Homo sapiens: one gene and its partners. The protein of the gene in region 1 purifies or fractionates together with the protein of each later gene. This does not show direct contact. Each region holds a gene or a part of one and is shown in the gene's direction. Other genes may lie near its edges.

Evidence for each region.
Region 2: the proteins of PHF6 (region 1) and TACO1 purify together in Homo sapiens (affinity purification with mass spectrometry, with the first as the bait; one large-scale study listed by BioGRID). This does not show direct contact.
Region 3: the proteins of PHF6 (region 1) and LRPAP1 purify together in Homo sapiens (affinity purification with mass spectrometry, with the first as the bait; one large-scale study listed by BioGRID). This does not show direct contact.

The regions. Positions count from the first base shown.
Region 1 is NC_000023.11:134,411,176-134,414,831, forward strand, and holds part of PHF6 (PHD finger protein 6), read left to right. Parts: intron 1-2,312; coding exon of another isoform or gene 2,313-2,315; coding exon 2,316-2,482; intron 2,483-2,647; coding exon 2,648-2,791; intron 2,792-3,656.
Region 2 is NC_000017.11:63,603,741-63,606,381, forward strand, and holds part of TACO1 (translational activator of cytochrome c oxidase 1), read left to right. Parts: intron 1-793; coding exon 794-900; intron 901-2,572; coding exon 2,573-2,641. UniProt on the Homo sapiens protein: Acts as a translational activator of mitochondrially-encoded cytochrome c oxidase 1.
Region 3 is NC_000004.12:3,525,865-3,529,520, reverse strand, and holds part of LRPAP1 (alpha-2-macroglobulin receptor-associated protein precursor), read left to right. Parts: intron 1-3,656. UniProt on the Homo sapiens protein: Molecular chaperone for LDL receptor-related proteins that may regulate their ligand binding activity along the secretory pathway.

The DNA.
Region 1 (3,656 bases):
TCCCGACCTCAGGTGATCTGCCCATGTTGGCCTCCCAAAGTACTGGGATTACAGGTGTGAGCCACCACACCCAGCCCAAATTTACCACTTTTTAATTTATACTTTTCAGTTTGAAAGTCTAATATAGTTAAATATATGAATCTTTCGTGACTTTTACTATTGATGTTAAAGTTGTTAAAAATTTTTGTGGAATGATTTCATATTTAGAACAAATATGACATGTGGGAAACTAATCATGTTGGCTTGATAATGGAATCAGTTCTTAAGTAATTTTTATAGATGTTTAATAAATAACATTATTAAATGTTATAGATGTTTAATAATGTTATTTATTAAACATCTTATTTGTTTATTGTTATTTATTAAACAACTATTAAATGTTATTTAATAGTGTTATGTATGGTGTTAGTGATGCTTATTTTCATAATAGATAACTGAATATATTATGTGTATACATATGTATAAAACAATGTTTTATATATACATACACATAGATGTCTTAGAATGATTGAAACAGTTATGATTTTTCATTTTGAGAATTTTTAATATTTGGCAAGTGCAAGTAATTCTTTTTTGAGATGGAATCTTGCTCTGTCACCCAGGCTGGAGTGCAGTGGCACAATCTCGGCTCTCTGCAACCTCCGCCTCCCGGGTTCAAGCAATTCTTCTGCCTCAGCCTCCCGATTAGCTGGGACTACAGGTGTGCGCCACCACACCCGGCTAATTTTTTGTATTTTTAGTAGAGACGGGGTTTCACCATATTGGCCAGACTGGTCTCGAACTCCTGACCTCGTGATCTGTTCACCTCGGCCTCCCAAAGTGCTGGGATTACAGGCGTGAGCCACCACGCCCAGCCAAGTGCAAGTAATTCTAACAGCTTTTAGTGAAATTCCATGTCTTAAAAATTGTCAGTTTGAATATTTAAATTAAGTAGTGTATTCTGACATGAAGTTTGCTATCGTGTTAAGGAGAGAAAACATCTTTAATTGACTTCTGTGTCTTCACAGGAAGTTATTCACGTGAATTTATTTTGTTGCCTATAAAACACTATGCAATAACTTTTACCTTTTCCCCTTAACTCCCTCAAGTCCCACCAGAGCTATGTGAAGTTGCACTCATGTAAATTGTTATTAACTGTTTTGCAAACAACCTAATACTTGTAGTTCCCTTAATTTATATATATATTCAAGTATACCAACTGAATTGCCCTTTTCTTATAATAAATGTGCTTTCATTTCTAATAAACAACCTTCAAAGTAGTAGGAAAGATATTAACGTCTGAGCATAGGAGTTGATATGCTTTCTCATTGAGAAATTAGTCTCTAGAATTATAATCAATAACATGGTAAAGGAAAAAATGGCGAAAATATTAGAGCTGTGCCTAAAACTTTCCATAGTTTGAGCCTATGGCAAGTGAACATTTGGTTTTTATTACCCTTTTAAACACTAAATATTAATACATTATCTTATACAGAGGCCTTCAATAAATAAAATATTTATAGTAAACTACTGATGAAACACCTTTCATTATGGTAGAAATTCTTTTCAGATTACTGAGAAATGCAGTTCTCAAATTTCTGCGTAAGTTTTGCTTAATTCATTAAAGCATATGCAACTAACTTGCAACATACTTTTTTTACTGCTTGTATTAGAAATTCTTTTTGTACTTAATATTTGTTTAATTACTTGATCCATTAGTTCAATTGTAAATGACTTCCTTGTTGAATTTGTTCATTCAGTTTTCATGATCGTTTGAAGAGTAATCTAGACCAGTGTTATCCAGTAGAACTTTCCTGTGACAGTGGCAACAGTCCTGTATATGTGCTGTCTAATACAGTTGCAACTAGCCACATGTAGCCAATAAGCTCTTGCAGTGCGGTCAGTGTGACTAAGAAACTGAAGTTTTAATTTTATTTAATTATAACTGACTTAAATTTTTTAAGGCCACATGTTGCTAGTGGCTACTACATTGAATAGCACAGATATATCTACTTTATTTTCATTTAGTTTTCCAAGTTACAGTAAGTGTATTTTCTAGGTAAGTGTTCTAATTTTACAAACTCTTTGAAACCTATGGTAAAAAAAAATAATAATGCAAAAGCAAACTCTAAAAATTAATTTACTAAACTATTTGTATTTGATTTTTATTGCATTTATCTGAAACATTGGGTGGCTTTATTGAACATACCACAGACCATTTCTCCTCATTTCTGGAGACAGTTTCATTCTAAGGAGAAACATATGTCCTAAAGACCCATGAACTAATACTTATTTTGAGATTGGTCCATAAAAAGTTTTTGTTCATTTTTAAGCAGCTGATTTAGAAGAAAGTTTTAATGAACATGAACTGGAGCCCTCATCACCTAAAAGTAAAAAGAAAAGTCGCAAAGGAAGGCCAAGAAAAACTAATTTTAAAGGGCTGTCAGAAGATACCAGGTCCACATCCTCCCATGGAACAGATGAAATGGAAAGTAGTTCCTATGTAAGTAAAAAAAACTGTTGGATTCTTACTTTTGTTGCACCATGAATATTTCATTTAAACTATCTATAGGTAAAGTTCATCATTTGAAATGTTAAGTAAGCTTGAAATACCGATAGCATATTTTCATGATTTTTTTTAAGTTCGTTTTTTCTTTTACATTTGCAGAGAGATAGGTCTCCACACAGAAGCAGCCCTAGTGACACCAGGCCTAAATGTGGATTTTGCCATGTAGGGGAGGAAGAAAATGAAGCACGAGGAAAACTGCATATATTTAATGCCAAGAAGGCAGCTGCCCATTATAAGTGCATGGTAAGCATGGTTCTTTTAAGCCCAATTTTGTTTTTTTGTTGTTTGTTTTTCTTTGTTTCCCCTGTGATCTAAAGCCCAAATGATTTTTTTTTTAAAAATCATTTAGCTAGTAACCAAAAAATTTCCCCCCACCAGCATTAGTATTTTAGAGTTATAAACAGTATATCTTATAATCCCAAATCTTAAGTTTAGATTTTGTTAAATTATAGCCTTTATGTTTTAGTAGGATTTGAAGTAATTCTAATTATAGTTACTGTAGTTAGGATAATCTGTAATTAATTATTTCATAACTATAAAAATTTTGTCTTTATAAGCATGTCATGAAATATATTTTAGACTTTCACTATAACCTAATAATTATCTCTGTTGTACTTAACACTCTATATTACAATTATTCATTTATGAACTTATCTTCCCTAACAGACTCTTAAATTCCTTGAAGATAAGAATAAGTTTTTATCTTGACATCCTTAGGTCCATGCCTGACTTACAGTACACATAAATATCTTTGACTTAGATTGTATTGAATGACTCATCCCATTGATAAGGTTTTTAAAATTACATTATTTATGTCAGAGATTCTTAACCAGAGTGCATGTCAGATTTACCTGGTGAGCTTTTTCCGAAATATGTGCATCTAGGCACCCTGTGGAATAGATCTCGTATATGTCTAGTTTGAAAAAAAAAAATACGCGAGTGATTCTAATCTGCATCTATGGTTGAAATTTGCCAATTTAAACTATTTTTTAAAACTTTGTGGAAATGTAAAATAGTTGAGAATAGAGTGACATTGTTGAAATTTTCATTGCTTAAAGCAGGCTATTTAATCTTGGCTCCACACTGGCAGTCCTCATTTTATTTCAAT
Region 2 (2,641 bases), on another chromosome or scaffold:
CATGGTGGCCCACACCTGTAATCCCGGCACTTTGGGAGGCCGAGTCAGGCAGATCACTTGAGCTCAGGAGTTTGAGACCAGCCTGGGCGACATGGTGAAAACCTGAATCTACAAAAAATACGAAAAAAATTACCTGGGTGTGGTGGTGCACACCAGTGGTCCCAGCTACTTGGGAGGCTGAGGCAGGAGGATCGCTTGAACCCTGGAGGTTGAGGCTACAGTGAGCTAAAATCATGCCACTGCACTCCAGCCTGGGTGACAAAGTGAGACTTTGTCTCAAAAAAAAAAAAAGTACTTTTCCAAAATACTTATCCAGGCCAGGGGCAGTGGCTCACACTTGTAATCCCAGCACTTTCGGAGGCCAAGGTGTGTGGATCACCTGAGGTCAGGAGTTCGAGACCAGCCTGGCCAACATGGCGAAACCTGGTCTCTACTAAAAATACAAAAATTAGCCGGGTGTGGTGGTGTGCACCTGTAATCCCAGCTACTCAGGAGGCTGAGGCAGGAGAATCACTTGAACCCAGGAGGTGGATGTTGCAGTGAGCCAAGATCGTGCCACTGCACTCCAGCCAGCAACAGAGTGAGACTCCATCTCAAAAAACAAACCAAAAAAACCCGAAAATACTTCTCCGTATCCCACTGAAACACTAGTTAAGGTATTCTAAGGTAACTGAGAGCTAAATGGTGATTTGCCACTCCTTTGGCTTGGTGGGGCTGGAAATCCCTTTTATTCTCCCATGTTGTAATGAGATGTCTTTGCTCACTCTTTTTTTTCTTTTTCTTTAAATCTCAGAAGGAGGCCCCAACCCTGAGCACAACAGCAACCTGGCCAATATCTTAGAGGTGTGTCGCAGCAAACATATGCCCAAGTCAACGATTGAGACAGCACTGAAAATGGAGGTGTGTACTGTTTGACATGCTTTTTATTGATCACAGCCTCTACCGGGCTCATGTCTGGATGGCCAACAAACACACTGTAAATTATCAGAGGGGCCAAGTGCAGTGGCTCACGACTATAATCCCAGCACTTTGGGAGGCTAAGGTGGGTGGATCACTTGAGGCCAGGAGTTTGGAGACCAGCCTGGCCAGCATGGTGAAACTCCATCTCTACTAAAAATACAAAAATTAGCTGGGCGTGGTGGCATATGCTTGTAATCCCAGCTACTGGGGAGGCTGAGGTGGAGGATCGCTTGAACCCAGGAGGTAGAGATTGCGGTGAGCCGAGATTGCACCACTGCACTCCAGCCTGGGCGACAGAGCGAGACTCTGTCTCAAAAAAAAAAAAAAAAATTATCAGAGAGAACGGTAGCAATGTAGTTGACGCCCTCAGCCTAGAGTCTTCTGAGAGCTCACCGTCCTTGGTCATTGGTTCTAGGAGCACAACTGGGAGTAGGATGCATAGGCAGTATGCAGGGCCATACAGTCAAGACCGGGACTGCTCAGCCAAGTTGTAGGGAGATGAGGTATTATAGAAAGAAGGGGCAGTGTGGGAGAAAGCCCTTACGTTAGGTGGAGGAAGTGTTTGTTTTTCAGATGTTTATGCCCTAAAGGAGAAAAGCCAGTAGAAAGGGAGAGGATGGGGGTGATAGAGATGGTGGGAGGGGCAGGTATATAGAGTCCACGTAAGGGTACACCTTTCTCTGGGGCAGGTAGGGAGGCTCTGAGGAAGTAATAGTTATCTTAATAGCTCAAAATTATTGAGTGCTTCCTGCAGGCTAAGCATGGATAAAAACTCTATGTGTGTTATCTCATCGAATCCTCAAAACCACCGTAAGTAGAAACTGAGGCACAGGAATGTTAGGTGAGTTGACTCAAGTCGCATAGAAAATGACAGACTTGAAACCAGATAGTCAGACTTTAGAGCCTGTGCTCTAACCGTTATGCTTATTGCCTTCATGTAGGCCATGGTGCAGAGAAGGTGGTGGAGACAGCAACTATTTTCCCCACCTAGTGGCCCTTTTTACCTTTGTGAAAGAGGAAGGGAGAAGTTATGAGTTGAGAATTCCTGGAAAGTTGCAGGACAGGGTGCTTGGAGTGGGGAATATTGAATACATGGACAAGGGATGAGTAGGGGCATGGAAGGTCCAGAAGAGATTAGTCCCTAGAGCTCTGGATTAATTGTTTCAATTTTGAGACCATGCTGTTTTCAGCAGCTCTTACGACAAGGCCTAGGTGTGTGATATTTCACAGCAGTACTCAGCAGCCCAGGGTAGGGACCTTGAGACTTGACCGGTGGGTTTCTTACAGGATGGGGGTGTAGGAGGATGAGTCTGAGTGGGATTGGGTAGGGACTAGATGTGGCATTTGGTTAGGGATGGTAGGAAGCAAAGCTGAGAGATGGCTGATGGATTGTTCAGGGACCGGAGAAACAGACTCCTTCCAAGTTAGGGGTAGTACTTCCTGTTACCTCAAAAGTTGGTTAGAGGGTGGGGACAAAAATAAAGATTGAGAGCTCAGGCTCCAGCCTAGAGAGCCCATCCCATGGAGTTAGTTTTGCGATACTTGTAGTTCTGGGCTGACATGTGGGAAGGAATTGGGAAACAGGAAAATGTGCTTGTGTTGTTTATTGCAGAAATCCAAGGACACTTATTTGCTGTATGAGGGTCGAGGCCCTGGTGGCTCTTCTCTGCTCATCGAGGCA
Region 3 (3,656 bases), on another chromosome or scaffold:
TTCTGAGGACTCTGCCTCTTCAGAGCTCTGTGTGTTGTGTTGATGCTGAGGAGTAAGCTCCAGGGTCTGCATGGTCCAGCTGCGGCGCTCAGGGACACACTCGTGTACCTCTTGGCCTGGGCTGCACGGTGCCATGAGCTCGGAGTCCTTGGCCATAGGTCCTTAGTTTTTTTGGTTTTTTGTTTTTTTGTTTTTTTTGAGACAGAGTCTCACTCTGTCGCCGAGGCTGGGGTGCAGTGGCGTGATCTCGGCTCACTGCAACCTCCGCCTCCCAGGTTCAAGCGATTCTCGTGCCTCAGCCTCCTGAGTAGCTGGGATTACAGGCATGCACCACCATGCCTGGCTAATTTTTATATTTTTAGTAGAGACGGGGTTTCACCATGTTGGCCAGGCTGGTCTCGAACTCCTGGGCTCAAGTGATCCTCCCGCCTCTGCCTCCTAAAGTGTTGGGATTACAGGTGTAGTCCCAGGAGGCACCGCACGCAGACAGTCCTTAGTTCTGACGTGAATGGTGACTGCAATGAGAGTGTGTGAAGCATCTTGTTCTCAGAGGTCTGACGAGTGGAAACTGAGGTCTGCAGAGAGGAGCCCTCAGAGCCCCACCCCAGCTCTCAAGCGTCCCCCCTGGCTTGAGAAGGGCCTCTGAGGATGGGCCAGCCAGTGGCCTCCATGGGCACCTAGGACTCGCCAGGCCAATGCATGACCTCACAGCAGCTCAAGGCGGGTACGGCTGTGCCCTTGTCCACGGAGCTCAGGTGGAAGGAGCTGGGGCACAGTGGCTGGGCTGGGACAGTGCATGCCACCTGCCGTGGTGAGACAGGTACAGCGTGCCAGGAAGCCTTGGTCACCGCCACAGCCTGCTCCTCATGGTGGGTGCCTTGCAGTCTGGCGCGGGCACTCAGGTGAGCGCTGGGAGGATGGCACATGCCCTCTGAAGAGGTGGTCCATTGGCGGTCCTGGTGGCATTGGAACCTGCCCAGCCTGAACTGTGCGGTGTGTGCAGGTTGACACCAGTGGTGTAGCTGTGGACCCTGGCCTGGGTTTCCTGGGGCGTTGAGAAGCAGCAGCAGGTTATTGGAAAGTTCCAGAAAGCTCTGCTGGCACGCGGGTGGTGCTGTGTGGGGAAGGGCCACTGCTGAGGTCCCAAGCAGTGCTGGGCCCTTGGGTCTGGTCAGGAGGACACGGTCGGCTCTGCTTGTGTCTGGGGACACAGGACCGGCGTCGTTTGATCAGCTGAGCCGGCTTTCTTGCCTGCATGTATACCCTGGTTGTTGATGATTTGCCTCGCTGCTTCATGTTTGACAGGTTCTTTTCTGCAGTTGGTTTCCACAGGGTACTTCTAACTTGATGCGTTAACATTTAACTTGAGAGAGGTGAAAGAATCCAGACGTGGGGTCTGGGGTCTGCACGTGACCTGCTGGTCTTCCTCTGCACAGAGCTGGGGCTGCTTTTTGTGGTGGTGCTGCCAGGCTGGCCCCTTCTGCGCTGAGCACTGGCAGCCACACATCAGGGGAAAGGGAGCTGGCTTTTGTGAGACATGCGGTGTGAAATTTAGACCCCCTGTTGCCTGAGAGTTGGGGAATCAGAGGGAGAAAATGACTTTCCCCTGTGGGTTGCAGATTTTACAGCCCACAGAGCACCTGCCCTTGATTCTCCCAGCACCCTAGGGAGGCAGACAGGAAGCCAGTGAGGACTGCAAGTTACAGGGGTTGGTGCCTGGCTGTGAGCCTGCCAGGATGGGCCCAGGACTTCAGCAGCCCTGGGTCTTCAGCTCCGCTTTCCAGCAGGCAGCCCATGGGCAGTCATGGGACACCTGCATCCTCTCCCCTGCAGCCAAAGAGGGCAGACCCGGGGCCCCTCAAGGCCAGCACACACTTGAGAGCATGGGCCTGAATTGCCTGCCCCAGGGTGCTGCTTCTGGCTCAGACCATCACTGTGGGCCTCGCATCTCAGACCCTCCCGGGCAGTGCAGCACGGTAAGTAAGGCGCCTACAGGGTAGCAGCAGCCACGGGGAAGTAGAGATGGAAGCAGACCTGTTCCTCCAGGAGTTTGGGTCACAAACAAGATAGGCAGGTGTGGGCTCCCCCTCCTCCTGAGGCACCGACTGCCCCTCCTGAGAGTTCAGCGTCACTCAGGTGCCTCATTGTCCTGGGTCCTCCTGCTGGGAATGCTCAGATCAGACCTCAGGTCTCCTAGGGCCTTCCAGTGGACGCCGCAGGCAAGTGTCCAGGGCACAGAGGGGCACGGGGTGGAGCTCTGGGGAGAAGGGGCTGGGTGGATGGGGCTGGCTGGGTGGATGGGGCTGGCTGGGGAAGAGGCACACAGGTAGGGGTGTGTCGAAGGCTGCCAGGGAAAGGGTTTTCAGGTTGGGACAATCCTGGAAAGCAGCCCCTGCAGAGATGGGGGCGCAGAGCATCTACCAGGAGGGCCCAGACAAAAGACTGTCCTGGGACCACCCACTAAGGGTTAGAGAACCTTCTAGAGAATTAGAAGCTTTCCTCTGCCCTAGGCCCTGCCATTCATTTTGTGCCTACCGTTTGCTATCTTTTTACCATTGGGGATCTTGGCTCAGTAATCTGAATTCATCCCTAACTAAATTTTAAACTCCTGGAGGGTGGGGCCTGTGTGGCTAGGGCAGCCACAGAGTCAGGCTGGGCTTCTGAGAGAAGAGAGGGCGGAGCTGACAGCCCCAGCACCCAGCTGGAGACAGGGCCTGTGGTCAGGGGTCTCCTTCCTCCCAGGCCCAACACAGACTGAGCTGCAGGGAGCAGGATGGGCTCAGTCTAGATACAGGCAGAGTGAGGCGAGGAGGTTCCGGAGTGTGGGGTGTGCCAAACACACAGAATTGGCTTCGTGCGAGTCTTGAAAGAAACGTGTGCCCCTGCGCGGCGCGGACCTGAGGGCTGGGCCTCCTGAGGTCTCGGGCTGCAAGGCAGTGTGGGCCACAAGGCGGCGCGGGCTGCGGGACACTGGGAAGGCAGCCGGCTCTTGACGCTTCGTGGGGATGTTCACTGTTTTACGTAAACTTTATTGAAATATAACACACATACTTTGGATACTAGCTTGTGTTGTATTTATGTTAGAAAATAGCTAATGAAATATAGATAAAAGATTAATATTTCAAACGTCTAAGGGAAAACAGACTCCATATTTAAACACACATGATCAGAGACAGGCGTTAGGTGATGGGCACCTGGAGCTCAGAGGCAGGAGCTGGGGTTCCCTCCTAGAGCCACGGGCAGCTCATGAGGACCAGCCCCGGGGGAATGTGAGAATGCAGGTGCTCAGGGAAGGGGACCCTCCTGAGAGCCGAGAGATTTGGGGATCTGCACTGCACAGTGCCGAGCACTTCCTTTGCTGCAGGACTCCACAGAGGCTTTAATGCGCTGGCGTCACTACAGGCATGCGGTGCAGCCTCCCCAGTTAGCCAGGGACAGCACCCTGTCTCCGTGAACCCTGGTCCCACCTCATGACACGTTCTGGTTCACACAGCTGGGCCACTCTGCTCTGCACGGAAGAGCCTTCGCTTCCCTGAAGGGCTAGCCTGCCCCAGCGCACGCCTCTTAGCGGCCGGGCCAGCCCCGAGGCCAGAGTTGATGAGAGCTGGCCGGTGGGTTTCATTCTGCTGCTTGCCTCGGCCGCCTGGCATTCTGGC